Homo sapiens: one gene and its partner. The protein of the gene in region 2 purifies or fractionates together with the protein of the main gene of each other region. This does not show direct contact. Each region holds a gene or a part of one and is shown on either strand. Other genes may lie near its edges.

Region 1 (7,000 bases), on a different chromosome or scaffold from region 2:
AATAATGTTTCATGGTGCCTTCCATGGTCTTGGCAGCAATAGGCCCTGATTAAATTTGGGCTTCTGAAATAAATGAAGCTGGTTATTTCAACCAGCACGAGTTAAAAATGAGATCTGTTTTAGATAATGCCAAGGGTGATGCTTACTGTGTTTTATAGACCATGCTTTTGGTTCCAGGGAAACCAAAAAAGGGACAGAAAGTGGTTACTCTTCTGTGAGAAAGTTACAGCAGGTAAAGTGCATGTAGCTTGCTCTCACCTCCAAAATCTAAGTCAGCAGGTCTTACCTATTACATCTCCTTGTTCATGAATCATCATTCCCAAATCTTTAAATATTTCATTAATATCCATAATATCAGCCTAAGAGAAAACGCATATATTATTATAATCAGAAATTCAGTCCCCATTCCATAAAAGAGGAAAAATTTTAAAAACCCAAACCACTACTCACACATGGGTGAGCATGCATCTATAATACACAAATATAATACATAAACTTTGGAAATATCAGGAAAATATTTGACAATAATTAAGAAGAATTTGAACAATAGCCACCAGTTCTCTAAAATCAGTTTGTGGCATTAAAAATACCAAGTGAGCGAGGCAGGATGGAAATGAATGGAAATGAAGGATCTATAATAGAGAAGAGCCATGGATTGCTGAGTTCATTTTATACAACCTGATAGTTTTGTTATCACAAGCAGTATCTACTTACAAGGGTATAAAATATTCTTAGCATGTATTTCTAGTAAAATTTACACATCAATTTGACAATTTAAAGTAATAAAACATTAGGTGTAAATTTAAAGTCTCACATTAATAATTTGAACATGCAGTGGATTAGTGAAATGTCACTACTGAATAAAGAAGTTATAAACTTGGTGATTAAATATAAATTTACTTTTCTTCAATGACACAATTAACTGCTTCATAAAGTTTTTATAAGGACTAAATGAGATAATTAACATAAAGAATTCATCCCACAAGTGCCTGGCACATGGAAGGTCTTCAATAAATTGTAGCCATTGTTAGCTATTATTAGCCTTCTTTCTAGGAACTAAGTAGGTTCCATAAGAACTATGACTTAATAAATCCTTTAGATCTCTTTGATGTCATAAACATAGTAAAGAGAAATAAAATTCTTTGAAGGCCTTATAAAAGGTCTTACTCATGCAGGTATGATGTGTATCATGTGCTCTGGGAAGACATCCAGACTCTTGGACAGACATTTATCTCTACACTGGTATTTTCTCAATACTAAGGTGGTCCATAGATGGCTTGATATAACAATAATAATTTTTAAAAAGCTGCAGTAGGAGGGAGTATGATCCCTCGTCCTAGCACAAACAGTAAGGACAATATTATTTTTTTAAAAAAGGAATTATTCCAACTCATACATTACAAATGCTACCAAACTGATACATTAATTTTCTTTCTCTGGGCCAGACATGGTGGCTCACATCTATAATCCTAGTACTTTAGGAGGCCAAGGCAGGCAGATCACTTGAGACCAGGAGTTTGAGAACAGCCTGGCCAACATGGTGAAACCCTTTCTCTGCTAAAAGTACAAAAAATTAGCCAGGTGGGGTGACACGTGCCTGTAATCCCAGCTACTCAGCAAGCTGAGGCACAAGAATCGCTTGAAGCTGGGAGGCGGAGGTTGCAGTGAGCCGAGATTCCACCACCGCACTCCAGCCTGGGTGACAGAGGGAGACTGTCTCAAAAAGAAAACAAAATTTTTCTGTCTCATGCATTCTCCCAGCATTACCTAAGCATCTTGAGAACAAACTCACTAAGACCAGAGCAGCAGCCCAAGTCTACAATGTAAGCCTTACTTCAAGTTGCCTGATAGAAGATTCTCTCTCATGAATAAGACGGAGGTCATCCTCTGTAATTTCTTCATCCTGCACCTGCACTTGAGGTTGAGTTTGGCTAACAGAAAAAAATGAATGTGGAAAAAAACAAAGATTGGTATTCAAAACAATGGGACTCATTTCCTATTTAAGATATATTCATTAAATAGGATATTTTATTCTCCAAAGTCACAGAACTACTCAAAAAAATTCTAAGAATATAACAGATATATTAATAAAATTTATTCATTTTTCATTTCACTTATATCATTTTAGCTAATGTGAGTTTAGAGTTATTACTTAATTATTGGAAGCTGTATCTGTCAACTGGGTATTTCTTCTCAGCTGATTTAAACCTCATATAAGGGAATGTCTATATTAATAATTAAGTCCATAAACATTTATTTGGAAAACTTTATATATTTTGTAATAAATACTTTATAATTACTTAAAATTTTTTTCAAATTTACTCTGTTTTCAACATATAAACAACTTAGGATATTTATGATATAATATATTGAAAGCTTTAATTCTGTTCCAGGGACCTTAATGTATAAACTTTGAAAAATTACCTTTTGATCTGTAAAATGTTTTGTATTTCTTACCTTTCCCAGGATACAAGATTCCTTTCTTTTGAGCTGTCCTCAGGAAAACTGCCCTGAATAATTTAGTAACAGGATGGAATGAGAAGGGGCAAAAAAAGCAAAAATGAGAAAAAATAAACACTCATATTTTCCCTTATAATAAACTAAACTGATTTATGTACGTGTCTGTGTGTATGTGTGTGTGTGTGTAGAGACAGAGAGAAAGAAGTTCTTGTTCTAATTTTTCAGGTCAACTGCTTCAAGTAATAATATAATTATAAGTAATTTTATATTCTAAGTAGACAAGAAAGGAATTCACTAAATATTCTCAAGGATCAAATAAGTATTATTTAGTTAAAGCTTAATGTAGTCTTGGAATCCATATGTTAATGAATAAGAAAATAACTCATGATAGTTTCTAAGGGAATTTAAAATTAGATTAATTCAAAATTCTATTGTAAAGCTTCCTTTCATTTATTTTCTCCAGGCTCATGTTCATTTTCAATATTGATACAACATACTTGCGCCATTCATCTCCGTCATCTTGGTGTAATCCAGGAGGAAAGTGCTTTCTACACTAGCGTGTACACAAGCAGAAAGCCTCAGTACCAAGACGATGTGAGAATACTACTCAGGATTTGATCCCTAATCTTTTTTGACAAAATATGTCTCTATATTTTTATATACTCTGTAATCTTCTGTACTATGACACAAAAAATCACCACCGTAATACAAAATTATCATCCTTTTCTAAAAATGGAGCAGGAAAGCATAAAAATAAATATTCAAGAGCTGATTTCCAAGATATTCACAGATCTTTATGACTTAAAAAATTATGCTACTATAGACTTTTATGGGACCCTTAGCAAGTAACCATGTTCATTTCTAGAATGTCTTTTAAAATACTTACAGACACTCTGGAACTGGCTCTTACTCGAGCAACAAACTCTTTCTCTCGCTCAGCAGCCTGCCTCTGGACCTTCTGGAAGTTTGTCAGTGATGTTGTGAACTCTGCCACTAAGCGATCCTTCTGTATTTTCCTTTGACGCTAGAGGAAAGAGAAGAAAAAGCCAACTAGAATCTAGCTGTGAAGTTCAACTGAATTTGCGGTAGTTGGCTCTTTATTTAACCCTGAAGTTTTCACTTACTCCCCAATTACAGGGCCTTACAGATTAACTCTCAGTAACATTCTGATAGTATGTCAAATACTGTGCATATTTAACTTGAGGCAAAAGACCCATTATGCTGGATTTCTCACCTCAGGTTTTCACGCTGCTAAAAACTAGCTTATTATTTTGAGGCTATTTTAAAGTAATTCTTTTTCAGGCAAATAAAGCCTTATACTTTTAGCTAAGTAATAACTTCCATTAAATAAGCAGGGAAATAAATATGTGCCCCCAGGACACCTCACATCTTGAATGAGCCTGCATGTTCCACGCAGTCAGCCCCGGAAGGCCAGGAAATAATTACTCAGGAAGCATTTTCTGAGAACTAACTTAATTATGGGTCAGGGCAAATGCATGGAAATAATTTTTGCTTTATTGAACCACAGGATACTACCTGAGCAATTAAATATAGTTTTGTGTTCTGTGAACTAATCTCAAACAGAATTATTTTTGATTTCCTTTCTAGCATAATTTCCTTTCTAGCGTAACAGTTCAAAGATCCTACAGTGCACTGGGTTTTTTTCACATTCAATACATCAACAATGTGTCTTAAAGCTTGATACCTGTTCACTGGGGGTGGTGGGCAGAGATCCAAACTCTTTAATGTACTTATCTGTTTCTTTGGCAAGCTGGTTAGTATACTGCTGCTTCTGTTGCCTAAAGTGAGAAAACACGCATTACAGCCAAAGGACTAATATACTTCTTTAAGCTTCAACTCTGCCTTTTGAATCAACACTGATAAACAGTTGTACAAAAATTGCCTTTTCATAAACTGGCTCTCAACTTTCTCTATCAAAAAAAATTTCATATCCTATTCTTTGATAAATAATGAGCAAATATTATATGTCAGGTTCTTCACTCACACAGGGTAGGCAAGCTTAGAGAAATCAATTCAACGGCCATTTAGAAACACAGATGACTTGAATCAGAGGGAACCTGAAGGAGAGACTGTTAGATGTCTGATCCTTTATGTTTGAGATACTGGGGATGTGGAAGCCCTTTATCTGCATCTCACACCTGGAAGGTCAGGTAAGCAAGAAAAGATTTGTTACCTTAGACTTTGCCCAGTTCCCAGATCTAGTTATATCTGGCCTCTCTTATTTCTCTATGTGAACATGTATATGCTATAGATACTTAAAAAAAAGGCGGGGGGGAGGGGCCAGGCATGCTGGCTCACACCTGTCATCCCAACACTTTGAGAGGCCGAGGCAGGCGGATCACTTGAGGCCAGGAATTTGAGACGTGCCTGGCCAACATGGCGAAACCCCATCTCTACCAAAAATAACAAAAATTAGGTAGGTGTGGTGGAGCATGCCTGTGATCCCAGCTACTTGGGTGGCTGAGGCAGAAGAATCACTTGAACATGGGAGGTGGAGGATGCAATGAGCTGAGATTGCACCACTGCACTCCAGCCTGAGCAACAGAGGAAAACTCTTGTCTCAAAAAATAAAAATAAAAAGGAAAGAGGCAATATTGGTACAAATTTACTATTATTTAAGTTTACGCTGGAAAAAATAATGGCATTTCCTTGTAAAGGGAAAGAACACAATAAATAAAAGAAGTAAATTATAGTCATCCCTCAGTATCTGCAGATTGGTTCCAGGACCCCTGTGGATACCAAAATCCGCTGATGCTCAAGTCCCTGATATAAAAAGGTATAGCATTTGCATATAACCTATGCATATCCTCCCATATCTTTAAATCATCTCTAGATTATTTATAATACCCAATACAATAATGTAAATGCTATGTAAATAGTTGCTATATTTTATAGTTCAGTTTTTTTTTTTATTATTGTGTTGTTTTTTTTTTTTTCTTGAATATTTTTGACCTGCAGTTGGTTGAATCTGGGGATATATAATCTATGGATACAGAGTGCTGACTACATATCCATATTTTATCTAGCTATCTTATAAATTGAAAAGATTTCCAACTTAAAAACATGACACTAAAAAAAAGCTCATATTAATTGTGATGTTTTACAAATCACAACATCAGTACCTCTTATATATTTCATCTCATTTTAAATATGGTCTGGTCACACTTGGGGTCCTTTAAAATAATGAGATATTGTATAAGAATATGCTTAAGAATAGGGATCTGTATTTGACTGACAAAGGGTAATTAAAATCTATTTCTATCTCTATTTACCAAATACCCTATCTTTAATGCATTTTTGTAAATCTCTGGAAATCATAATATAGTCAAAGTTTTAAAAAGAAGACCTTAGGCTGGACATGGTGGCTCATGCCTGTAATCACAGCACTCTGGGAGGGTGAGGTGGGTGGACTGTCTGAGCCCAGAATTGAAGACCAGTGCCGGCAACATGGCAAAACACCATCTCTACAAAAAATACAAAAATTAGCCAGGCATGGTGGATGTGCCTGTATTCCCAGCTACACAGTAGGCTGAGGTGGGAGAATCGATTGAGCCTAGGAGGTCCAGGCTGCAGTGAACCGTGATAATGTCACTGCACTCCAGCCTGGGTGACAGCATGAGATCCTGTCTCAAAAAAAAAAAAAAAAAAAAAAAATCCTTAGTGACTACGGATATATATTCAGAATCTTCATTATTAACTCTATCAAAATATTAGAACTTTTATGAATTATGTACTTCTATTCCATTTTACTTTAGTTTAATGAATTGTGGTTTATTATTTAGATTTGGAGCATTTTTACCATTCTGACACTTACCCACTGTGGAAAAATAAAATATAAATTAGAGATAATTGTAAGTCCTTCAAATTGTACTTCCTAAAAATATGAATTCCTATTACCTATCTTTTAATATCGTCCTCTTTGCAGTTTTCCCTCTATAGTTAATGTTGTTTAGAAGTATTGCTTACTAGATATATGTGACTTGAAATTTACAGCTGTAACAGTACTGAAATAAAATTTAAGAGTTAAGTTCTAAATGACATTGGGTAACTCGTTAAACCCGTAAGAGACATGAACAAAATGGAAACAGTTCTTTTGGTCTATTTCTCTTACTCTAATTCTGTAAGGTTTAAATGATAAAATATGTAAAAATACTCTGTAAAATCCACAACATACCACAGACAAAATATTATCACTATGACTGCTGGTCTTCTAACAGCATATTAATTTACTGGAATATGTACTATATAATTCATTATAACTTTTTTTTAAACGGAAGCTAATGCTCTCTGAAATTCAAGGATGTAGGTATAAACTTGTGGGGAGACAGCTCACGTAGCTGGTTATGTATTGGATCTAAACCAAATAAAACTCTGGTGACTGCGGGGATTTTTAGCTATGGAAAGTAAATCACATAAATTGAGATACTAGAGTATAATTTTTCAACAGCTGTCAAAAACAACCTACCTAAAAACTGTAAGAAATGCAACTAAAGAAATTCTGCTTTGATAGGGTAAGCCT
Region 2 (9,580 bases):
TCCCCCTCTGTGAAGTGTGCTTATCAATGGTGACAGTGTGTTTATTCACAAACCTATTTATGCCAGTTGTGCTTATTACTGAAAGTACGTAAATACTATGTAAAGCAATGAAGTATAAATGAGAAGAGAAAAATGACAGCAGCAATTAACACTGAGTACTTACTACCTGCCAGGCACTGTTCTAAATGCTTTACATGAATTAACTCCTATAATATTCACAAGAAACCTAGAAATGGATACTACCATTATGCCTGTTTTACAAAGGCAAAAACTGAGTAACTTGTCTATGGCCTATACAACTAATAAGTGGCAAAGCAATTTGGCTCCAGAGCTCAAGTACTTAACTACTGTACTACATAGACTCTCTAGTAGTTATTTCTAAAACACCACACTGAATGCTTTCGAAAGACCAGATAAAAGTGAGCACACAAGGCCGGGTGCGTTGGCCCACGCCTCTAATCCTAGCACTTTGGGAGGCCAAGGCGGGTGGATCACCTGAGGTCGGGAGTTCCAGACCAGCCTGACCAACATGGAGAAACCCCGTCTCTACTAAAAATACAAAATTAGCCGGGCATGGTGGCACATGCCTGTAATCCCAGCTACTCGGGAGGGTGAGGCTGGAGAATCGCTTGAACCCGGGAGGTGGAGGTTGTGGTGAGCCGAGATTGTGCCATTGCATTCAAGCCTGGGCAACAAGAGCGAAACTCTGTCTCAAAAAAAAAAAAAAAAGTGAGCATACAGATAACACATAAACTTGCTGTTAGGTGTGGGAGACAACAGAAAAGTCTGGAAGGACATTTCATAAACACCTAGAAAGATTCTGCAGTGAGACTGCTTTGCAAGTGACTTTAAGTATTCATTCCATGTTAAAAATACCATAGATAACGTAGGCCAGGGGCTAGCAAGCTCTTTCTATAAAGGGCCAAAAGTAAACATTTTAGATGTTGCAGGCCATGTGGTTTCTGTTGCAATCACAAATATTCAATTCTGCCTTGGAGGGTAAGAGGAGTCATAGACAATACATAAACAAATGAGAAAGGCTGTGTTCTAATAAAGCTTTACTTATAAAAACAGGCAACAGGGTCCTACACTCCAAGAAAAGGCTGAGGCCTTATGTTAAAAGAATGGCAAAAGAATGTTTATGTGTTCGTTAAAATGTTATGCATATAACTATTATCTGTATGATTCCCTGCTTTAACTTACTTCTTCAGTTAACCAACTAATGGCCCTAAGTCTGCTTTCAGTGACTGAGTGAACGGAATGTTATAGATCCCCTAGAACCTGCATTTAATTCATATTCCTATCATTATGCCTGATATAACTTGGTTATAACTTTAAACTACTAATTTTAAAATGCATGCATCATTACAGATTAGTATGGGTATACTCGTATATAAAGACTGTCATCTCTGTTGCAAAATTGCTGATAATTTGAAAATAATTATTAAAATTGCTGCTTCCCTGAGGGAGTAAGGGGAGTGGAGGGTGGAGAAAAAAAATTGCTGCTTCCTGGCCAATCTTCTGGGGGTTGACAATATATTTTATGAGTATTCTAAAAGTTGTATACTTAAGCAAAACAAATAAACAAAAATGCTTACTTTAAACTTGAGATCAAGGTTGTGCCTTACTTACCTTTGTATCCCCAGCAGTTACTCAGTAGAAGTCCAGGTCTAATCCACTCATTTTACAGTGCTTAGGGAGCCTGGCCCAAACTCAGAGTGAGTTATAAGGGCTGGGACAGGAATTCAGATTTCCTGATTCCTAGTCCAGTATTACCAATCTGAAGATACACGAATTTAGGAAGACAGTGGCTTTCTTTTTTTTTTTTTTTAGGTGCACCCAGTCCTGCAGTTCAAAGCCTGGCAAGACTCACCATCATCTTCCTCCTCCTCATACTGCTAATGAGAATCAGCAGCTGTGTTTCTACAGTGATAATCTGCGTATGCATGTTCGTGATGTTCCAATCACCAAAAAGGCTATTGATTTTAGGATTCCTGAGTACCTACAAAAGCTACTTAAACATCCAGGATAAAATCAGCTCCACCCAAGAATACAAGATAAGAGTTCAAATATTCCCTTGGCCATTTTTTTTTTTTAAAGAAAAGGCTGGAAGGACATGTCATAAACACCTAGAAAGATTCTGCAGTGAGACTGCTTTGCAAGTGACTTTAAGTATTCATTCCATGTTAAAAATACCATAGATAATGTAAGCCAGGGGCTAGCAAGCTCTTTCTGTTAAACATTTAGATGTTTCAGTGCTGCAATCACAGTGACCGGTGTTGGGGAGAGGGATTAGAAAGTGCCATGGTACTTAATCCAGTTACTCCCCCAACACCTCCAAGAGGTAGCCAAGTTCACACACTAAACAGAGCTACTGCAACAGTTCTAGTGCTAGTCCTTAGATTCTAGTTCCAGTTCCGGTTCTAGTGCTTAGATTCCAGTTGCATCATTCCAACTGTGAGCCTTCGCTGCTTTAACATCTTTGCCAGGAGGTGCAAAGTTCTCTGGGAGGGAGCTACCAATCATTTCATTTCAATTTCATACTGACAGATTGAAACATTCACGTAAGGGACACCTGTAGTACCAACCTGACTGTGAGGGGAAGCCCAAGAACTCCAGTGAGTCTGTGGACGCTACGCTGGGACACTATCTCCTTAGCCACACCTTGTCTAAGCCAGGACTACCCCAGGATTGTTTCGAGAATGATACCAGGTTAACCAAAGAAATACTTATGTAAGATACAGATAGGGTGGAAACTGGAGGCAGAGGAGTCCGCCACAATTGATGTTGATTTAGGGCTGTCGCAGGAAGACCCAGGGAAACCCACGCCAAAGTTGGGGTGGGGATGTGTCTGCCTCCAAAGTATCCTCCTTTCCATCACCCACCGCCAGAATATCTTAGCTCTTCTGCACCTCATCCGCGTAGAATACAGGTGGACTCTAGAAAGGGGACTTTCCTCGAGGTGTATGCTACAGTCTTTCAATAGTCACTCTGTAAGGGCACACAGTGCTTAAGGGCTGATAAGGTTCTTGTTCACCCACTAGCTCACTATGTCCTGAATCAAAGGACGAGGAATCCAGTCTCAGTCTGCCCTTTACTCTTTGTGACCTCGGACTAGTCACCCGGGTGCTTAGTTCCTTCGTCTCCCTATCTGTAAATTCTGAGATTACGAGGAGGCCGGGATTGAAATCCATGGCCTCTGAGCTCTAAAATCTTCTGGACCAGCAGGCACATGGAAGAACTGGACAAATGGCCGGTTGCATACACGGGGAAACTGAGGCACCGAGCACCCCGGCCCAAGGTCACTCTGGCTATGCCACTGCAGGGGCCGGGCCGAAGCCCCAGTCTTTAACCCTCCAGTCCCGAGCTCTTTCTCCTTCCGCGGAGCTGAGGAAAGCGGCGAGGAAGGTCCTTGTCCCGCTGGGAAAAGGACGGTACCCATGCACAGGGGTGCGAAAGAGGGGCCGAGAGAAGCCTTACCTTTCCAGGTCAAGTCCAGCCACTAGCACCTCTCTCTCCGAATCTTAACCCGTCACCCCCTCACGACTCTTCGAACGGCCCCTCCACTTCTACCCGGCTCGACGTGTCCACCACCGCCACCGAGGCCGAGGATTTCCCGCCCCCTCCCGCCCCCTAGCATTACCGACCAATCCCTGCAAGGGGCTGTGAAGCTCCGCCCCGCTGCGGGCTGGAGAGGCCTGACGTCACTCGGCGCTCGTGCCCGCGCGAGCCTCTCATTTGCCTTTGCCCCACCTTCTCCAGAGCCCAGTCTACTTTCGGTCCAGAGACCGTGCTGGAGTTCGCCCTGCCGGAAAGCAGCACGCCGCCGCGGCATTTTACGACGTCGGCGGTGACAGGCCCTGGGACTCTGGGAATACCCAGCTTCCTCCCCGCAACCCGGTGAAAGCCAACGCAATGTTCGGTGCGGGGGACGAGGACGACACCGATTTCCTCTCGCCGAGCGGCGGGTGAGTGACTGAGAAGTATGCGCTGGAGGGCGTGGCTGAGAGATACCGGCGGATTGTTGGAGGGGGGTCGATCTCTTCTCAGGCCTTTTCCCAACTTCCGGGGGGAGACCCTTGCCACATTCCGGTGCTCTACACCTCTCAGAATCTGGGCAGAACTTGCAACTGTGCTGACCCTGCCGATCTGAGGTTCGGGACCCGGCATCTCTCTTGGCGGGAAGATAGCCCTGGGTTTGCCTTTTGCATTCTGGGTCACAATTTCTCCGGTGAAATGGGAATGATTGCTGATGAGACTTCCTGCCTCAGAATTTTTATAGGAGTCAGCTGGGGCTGATGTGAGACTTCTTTTCTCCATGGAGAAGGCGAAGACACTTTAGAACCAGGCCTTGGTGGGTCAGCTCTAGCATTCTTCAAGGCCCAGCTCGGATGTCACGTTTTGGATGCTTTTCCTTCTGCAACCTCAGGCAGAATGAATTGCTTTCTCTTCCTTATTCCTGCAGCTAGGTGTGTTTGCCTCTATTCTTATACCCCGCACCTATTAGATTATGAGTCCTCACCGGACAGGGACTGCTTATGGTGTTCATTTCTGTCTAGCATGCAGCATGGTACCTAGCACATAGTGAGTGCTCAGGAAGTGGCTGTTGAATGAATAATAGCTGCGAAATTGCACTTTGTAAAGCTTAAAGCTTAAAACCAACGTAACAGACTTCTGTCATTCTCCAGTTTCCCCAAGCATTATATTAATATATACCAGCCTGGAATAGAAATCTTTAAAGAGAGGAAGGGTTTTGTCTCTTTTAGTAGTCAGTTTAGCCTTTTCCATTGTGTTGTGCCAGTGGACAGCTTGACTTCCTCCAAACTTGTGAGCTACCAAGCTCTGATCATTGCAGAGCTTTTCTTTGAACATATGCTTAACAAATTTTGTGCGTGCTGAAGAATGTACTGGAAAAATGACAAATGCACCACATATGCCCCTTATTCTGCTAAATGCTAAGAGGTTACAAAAATGATTAAACTGCTGTGCCTGCCCTTAAGTTGCTTCCAGATCTGTTGGGCCATGTGGTTTCTATTGCAACCACAAATACTCAGTTCTGCCTTGTAGGGTGAGAGTAGTCATAGACAATACATAAACAAATGAGTTAATAGATGAATGACCATAAAATGACACTGGCCTTCTTTTGTCCTTAAGTAGGAATTTTTGATTTACACTGACTAGCTCTATATTACCTACCTTTTAGTCTTTTTCACTCTCACCACTCTGTTCCCTTCCTACCCCGTCTTTAGATGGCCTGCATTCACTTAGTTCCACTTTGAGTTCTTTCCGTTTCTCAGTTATTTTACAGTTAAGCTGTGCTTTTGTTCCTTTTTTCCCTATTCCACTTTAAATTCGCATTCTTCACTATGTGAAAGTATTTGGGAGAAGTCTGTAATGTTAGGGCTCCCAATTTTCATGCAACAATCAGTCCAAGCTGACTGAAAATTATGGGATAGGTAATGACAGCCATGTGCTCTTTTCCAGATTCCTGGCCAGAGATAAATTCTTGGTGGCTCAACTATTCTTTTTTCCTGAGCAGGCTTCTCAAGGATCTGAGACACTTGAATTCTAGGCATGTGACTGTGCTCCTAGACATAGACAACAGCTAATTTGATGGTAAAAGACATACTGAGGAAAGTTATAGTTTATTTTTGTTCCCCACAGTTATCAGGAAAACCAAATCAAATTTAACACTGAGAATACAGAAAGTTTCACCACAATTCTCTGATTTAGCTATTCCTTTTTTGGTTTTCTCTAAGGAAGTAGAACATATGACAGTGAATACTGCAGCTACTTTTCACTTCCTCTTTTATAGCCATATATTACTGTAAGTATACTTGCTTAAGTTCCAAGTCTCTTGATTTAAACACATGATTTGCTTGATTTCATGAAGGATATTCAAGCCTAATAGAAGTAGGAGTATCTGATAATCTGCCTTCTGAGTTTCTAGGCCTCTTAGAGTTTACTATTAATCTAGAAGTAGTAATCAGGAGCCTTGTTTTTGTTTGTTAGTTTGTTTTAGCCCATTCCTCACCGTTGTGGGAAGTAATAGTAATGAACTAATAGTACTTGGCTTCAGCTAATCCAGATAGGAATAAGGCACAGTTTCTGCCCCTAAGAAACTTTTATTTTAGTAGTAGAATAAAATCAATCCAGGAATAATAATCACAAAGCATTTTTAAGGGGCCAATTATGTATATATTTGTTTTAGATTATAAAGGTATGTGTAGGCAGATCCGATTAGCATAGTAATGATAAATCACCAGTCTAAAGATGGTAGAAAGATAAATTAACCGATCATCAGAAAGCATTTTGAGTTCTGTAAAAGATAGGAAAAAGCCTAGATTCAAATGTTGATTCTATCCCCAGTTAGGAATGTGACTTTGGACAGATTATCTTCCATCCTTGTCCCTCCATACCCCAACCTATTCAATAATGAGGTTTGACCTAGATAAACTTTGAGACCTTTGCCAGTTCTGTAGTTTTAATGTTAATGCTAATACCAGTTTATGGTTGCAGGTCAACTTCCGTGTCAATCAAGCATGCTTTCACCCTTGCAGGGGTATCTGAGTTGAACCACATTTTGAGATAATAGGATGTGTTCACAAGTATATAAATACGTACTCTGTGCTTACTTAATGCCATACACTGTTCTAAGAAATACATAGACATTATTGTATTTATTCCTCCCTTCTACTCTATGAAATAATTTTACCTACTATGCCCATTTTACAAATGAGAAATGTATATATATATATATATATATATATATATATATATAATTGTATTTACTCCTCTCTATGAGGTACTATTAATTATTATATCCGTTTTACAAATGGGAAAGGCTCAGAGAGGTAAATTGCCCAAGATCATGCAGCTAGAAAGTAATAGAGCCTGGATCTGAAATCAGGTAGGCAGATTCTACCAGACCTGCCTATGTGCTATTGTTGTTATTATTGAAATGGATGTTTGATGTCAGTTTGTTTAAAAAAGTATTAATACTTTACCAACAAAAAGAATCTCTGTTTATTAAAATACATTGATACAGTATAAATGCATGTGTTTTTGTTTTTGATGAGAAAGAAAATATAAAACTGAGGTGAGGTGAGGTCCTTGGCGACTAAATGCATTGTCTAACATTTTTTTTTAATGTAGTTAATTCTGTCATGACTTTTCCTATGAATTATAAATATAGATTCAAGTCCAGAGTTAGCAAGCTCATTCTTGCCAACATAGGGAGATTGTGTACATTTGAGAGTTCCTTAGTAGTGGAAAAATCTAAAAATTTATTTATTTTTGTTTATTTATTTATTTTTTTGAGACAGGGTTTTTCTCTGTTGCCCAGGCTGGAGTGCACTGGTGCAGTCATGGCTCACTGCAGCTTCGAACTCCTGGGCTCAAGCAATCCACTTGCCTCAGTCTCCCAAGTAGCTGGGATTACAGGCGCATGCCACCACGCCTGGCTAATTTTTAATTTTTTGTAAAGATGGGTTCTTGCTATATTGCTCAGGCTAGTCTTGAACTCCTGGCCTCAAGCAGTCCTCCTGTCTCAGCCTCTGAGAGTGAGCCACCATGCCCTGCTAAAAATTTACAAGTAACTTATCTCCCAAGTTGATGCAGAGTCCATTAAAGATATTAATAGAAAATGGGACTGTGCGTGGTGGTTCACGCTTGTAATCCCAGCACTTTGGGAGGCCAACGCAGGTGGATCATGAGGTCAGGAGTTCGAGACCAGCCTGGCCAACACAATGAAACCCCGTCTCTACAAACATACAAAAATTAACTGGGTGTGGTGGCAGGTGCCTATAATCCCAGCTACGTGGGAGGCTGAGGTAGGAGAATCGCTTGAATCTGGGAGGCAGAGGTTGCAGTGAGCCAAGGTCGTGCCACTGCACTCCAGCCTGGGTGACAAAGCAAGACTCCGTCTCATTAAAAAAAAAAAAAAAAAAAAAAAAAACTGGGCGTGGTGGCTCACACCTGTAATCCCAGCACTTTGGGAGGCTGAGGCAGGTGGATCACCTGAGGTCAGGAGTGCAAGACCAGCCTGGCCAATGTGGTGAAACCCCATCTCTACTAAAAATACAAAAATTAGCCAGGCCTGGTGGCGGGCACCTGTAATCTCGGGTGCTCAGGAGGCTGAGGCAGGAGAATCGCTTGAAGCCTGGAGGTGGAGGTTGCACAGCCGAGATCCTGCCATTGCACTCCAGCCTGGACGCCAAGAGCAAAATTCCGTCTCAAAAAAAAAAAAAAAAAAGAAAATGGAATTAATCTGAAAACTAATTAGGTTGACCTGGCTTTTGGATCGACTTTGTAGTCTTCAGTTGGCTGGTCTTTAGAACATCTATGGAAACACAGTTCACTTATGACACTCTTGTCTTTCCTTTTAAAAAGGCTATACCTGCAAAATTAAAACAGCAAGCCCAATACTCATGGTTTACTGAAGCTAACAAGGACATTCATTTCTTATCAGTAATCTGTGCATAAGCTATGTTATCTTAACTAGGTGCTAAGCTTTGTACATTTTTCACTGTGTTAAAGATAGTGAAACCCAACTCTTCCAGAATCTTATTCTTTAGGCAATTTGCCCGAATTTTCCTGCCTGAAAGGACAAATCTTGCTGTCTTCTAAATTCCATAAGCATTTGGTGATGTCTTTTTAGGCCAGCGCTGCTCTCACTCAAGCATTGCGTTTACAATCTCATTTAAACCTCTTAGTCCTTTACAGTAGGCATTTCTGGCCTATTTACAGGAAACTTAAACTTACATTAGACTACTTTGAGAAAAGAAGGTAATAGTTTCAAGTCATATAAAATTTATTTTGTAAAATGCTAGTGCATATTTCTCTATACATAAAACTTGTTTTAAAAAAACCTGAAAAGCCAAAATAACTTGTTGGGAAGTTTCAATGTTTACTTCACCTAAACTAAGGATGCCTTTGGAGAAGAAGTGCTCAGAGCCAGACTAGACTTTGAATTCATTTACTGAGCCTGTTACATACCAGACACTGGGCATACCCCCTTTTTTTTTTTTTCGGTTTGCTTTATTGTGCCTTGCAGATTTTTTTTTTTTTTTTTTTCACAAAATAAAGGTTGTGTCCAACCCCGTGTTGAGTGAGTCTATTGGCATCATTTTGCCAACAGCAAAATTCCTCCCTTCGTGTCTCCGTGTCACATTTTGGTAATTCTCTTAATATTCAAAAATATTCTCTTGGTCAGTTGCAATGGCTCACACCTATAATCCCAGCATTTTGGGAGGCTGAGGCGGGTGGATCACTTGAGGCCAGGAGTTTGCAACCAGCCTGGCCAACATAGCAAAACCCTGTTTCTACTAAAAAATACAGAAATTAGCAGGGCATGGTGATGCACGCCTGTAATCCTAGCAATTTGGGAGGCTGAGGCATGTGAATCGCTTGAACCCAGGAGGCGGAGGTTGTAGTGAGCCGAGATTGGGCCACTGCACTCCTGCCTGGGCGACAGAGTGAGACTGCATCTCAAAAAAAAAAAAAAAAAAAAAAATATATATATATATATATATACACACACACACACACACACGCACACATATATATTCACACATATGTA

Evidence for each region.
Region 1: the proteins of SLC31A1 (region 2) and STX7 purify together in Homo sapiens (affinity purification with mass spectrometry; 5 studies listed by BioGRID and IntAct, with this or other methods). This does not show direct contact.

Annotation. Positions count from the first base shown.
Region 1 is NC_000006.12:132,468,117-132,475,116, forward strand, and holds part of STX7 (syntaxin-7), read right to left. Parts: intron 4,260-7,000; coding exon 4,166-4,259; intron 3,485-4,165; coding exon 3,347-3,484; intron 2,511-3,346; coding exon 2,458-2,510; intron 1,932-2,457; coding exon 1,835-1,931; intron 360-1,834; coding exon 287-359; intron 1-286. UniProt on the Homo sapiens protein: May be involved in protein trafficking from the plasma membrane to the early endosome (EE) as well as in homotypic fusion of endocytic organelles. Mediates the endocytic trafficking from early endosomes to late endosomes and lysosomes.
Region 2 is NC_000009.12:113,215,579-113,225,158, reverse strand, and holds the start of SLC31A1 (high affinity copper uptake protein 1), read right to left. Parts: upstream 3,616-9,580; 5' UTR 3,481-3,615; intron 1-3,480. Other genes in the region: FKBP15 (FK506-binding protein 15), read left to right, coding at 3,916-3,968.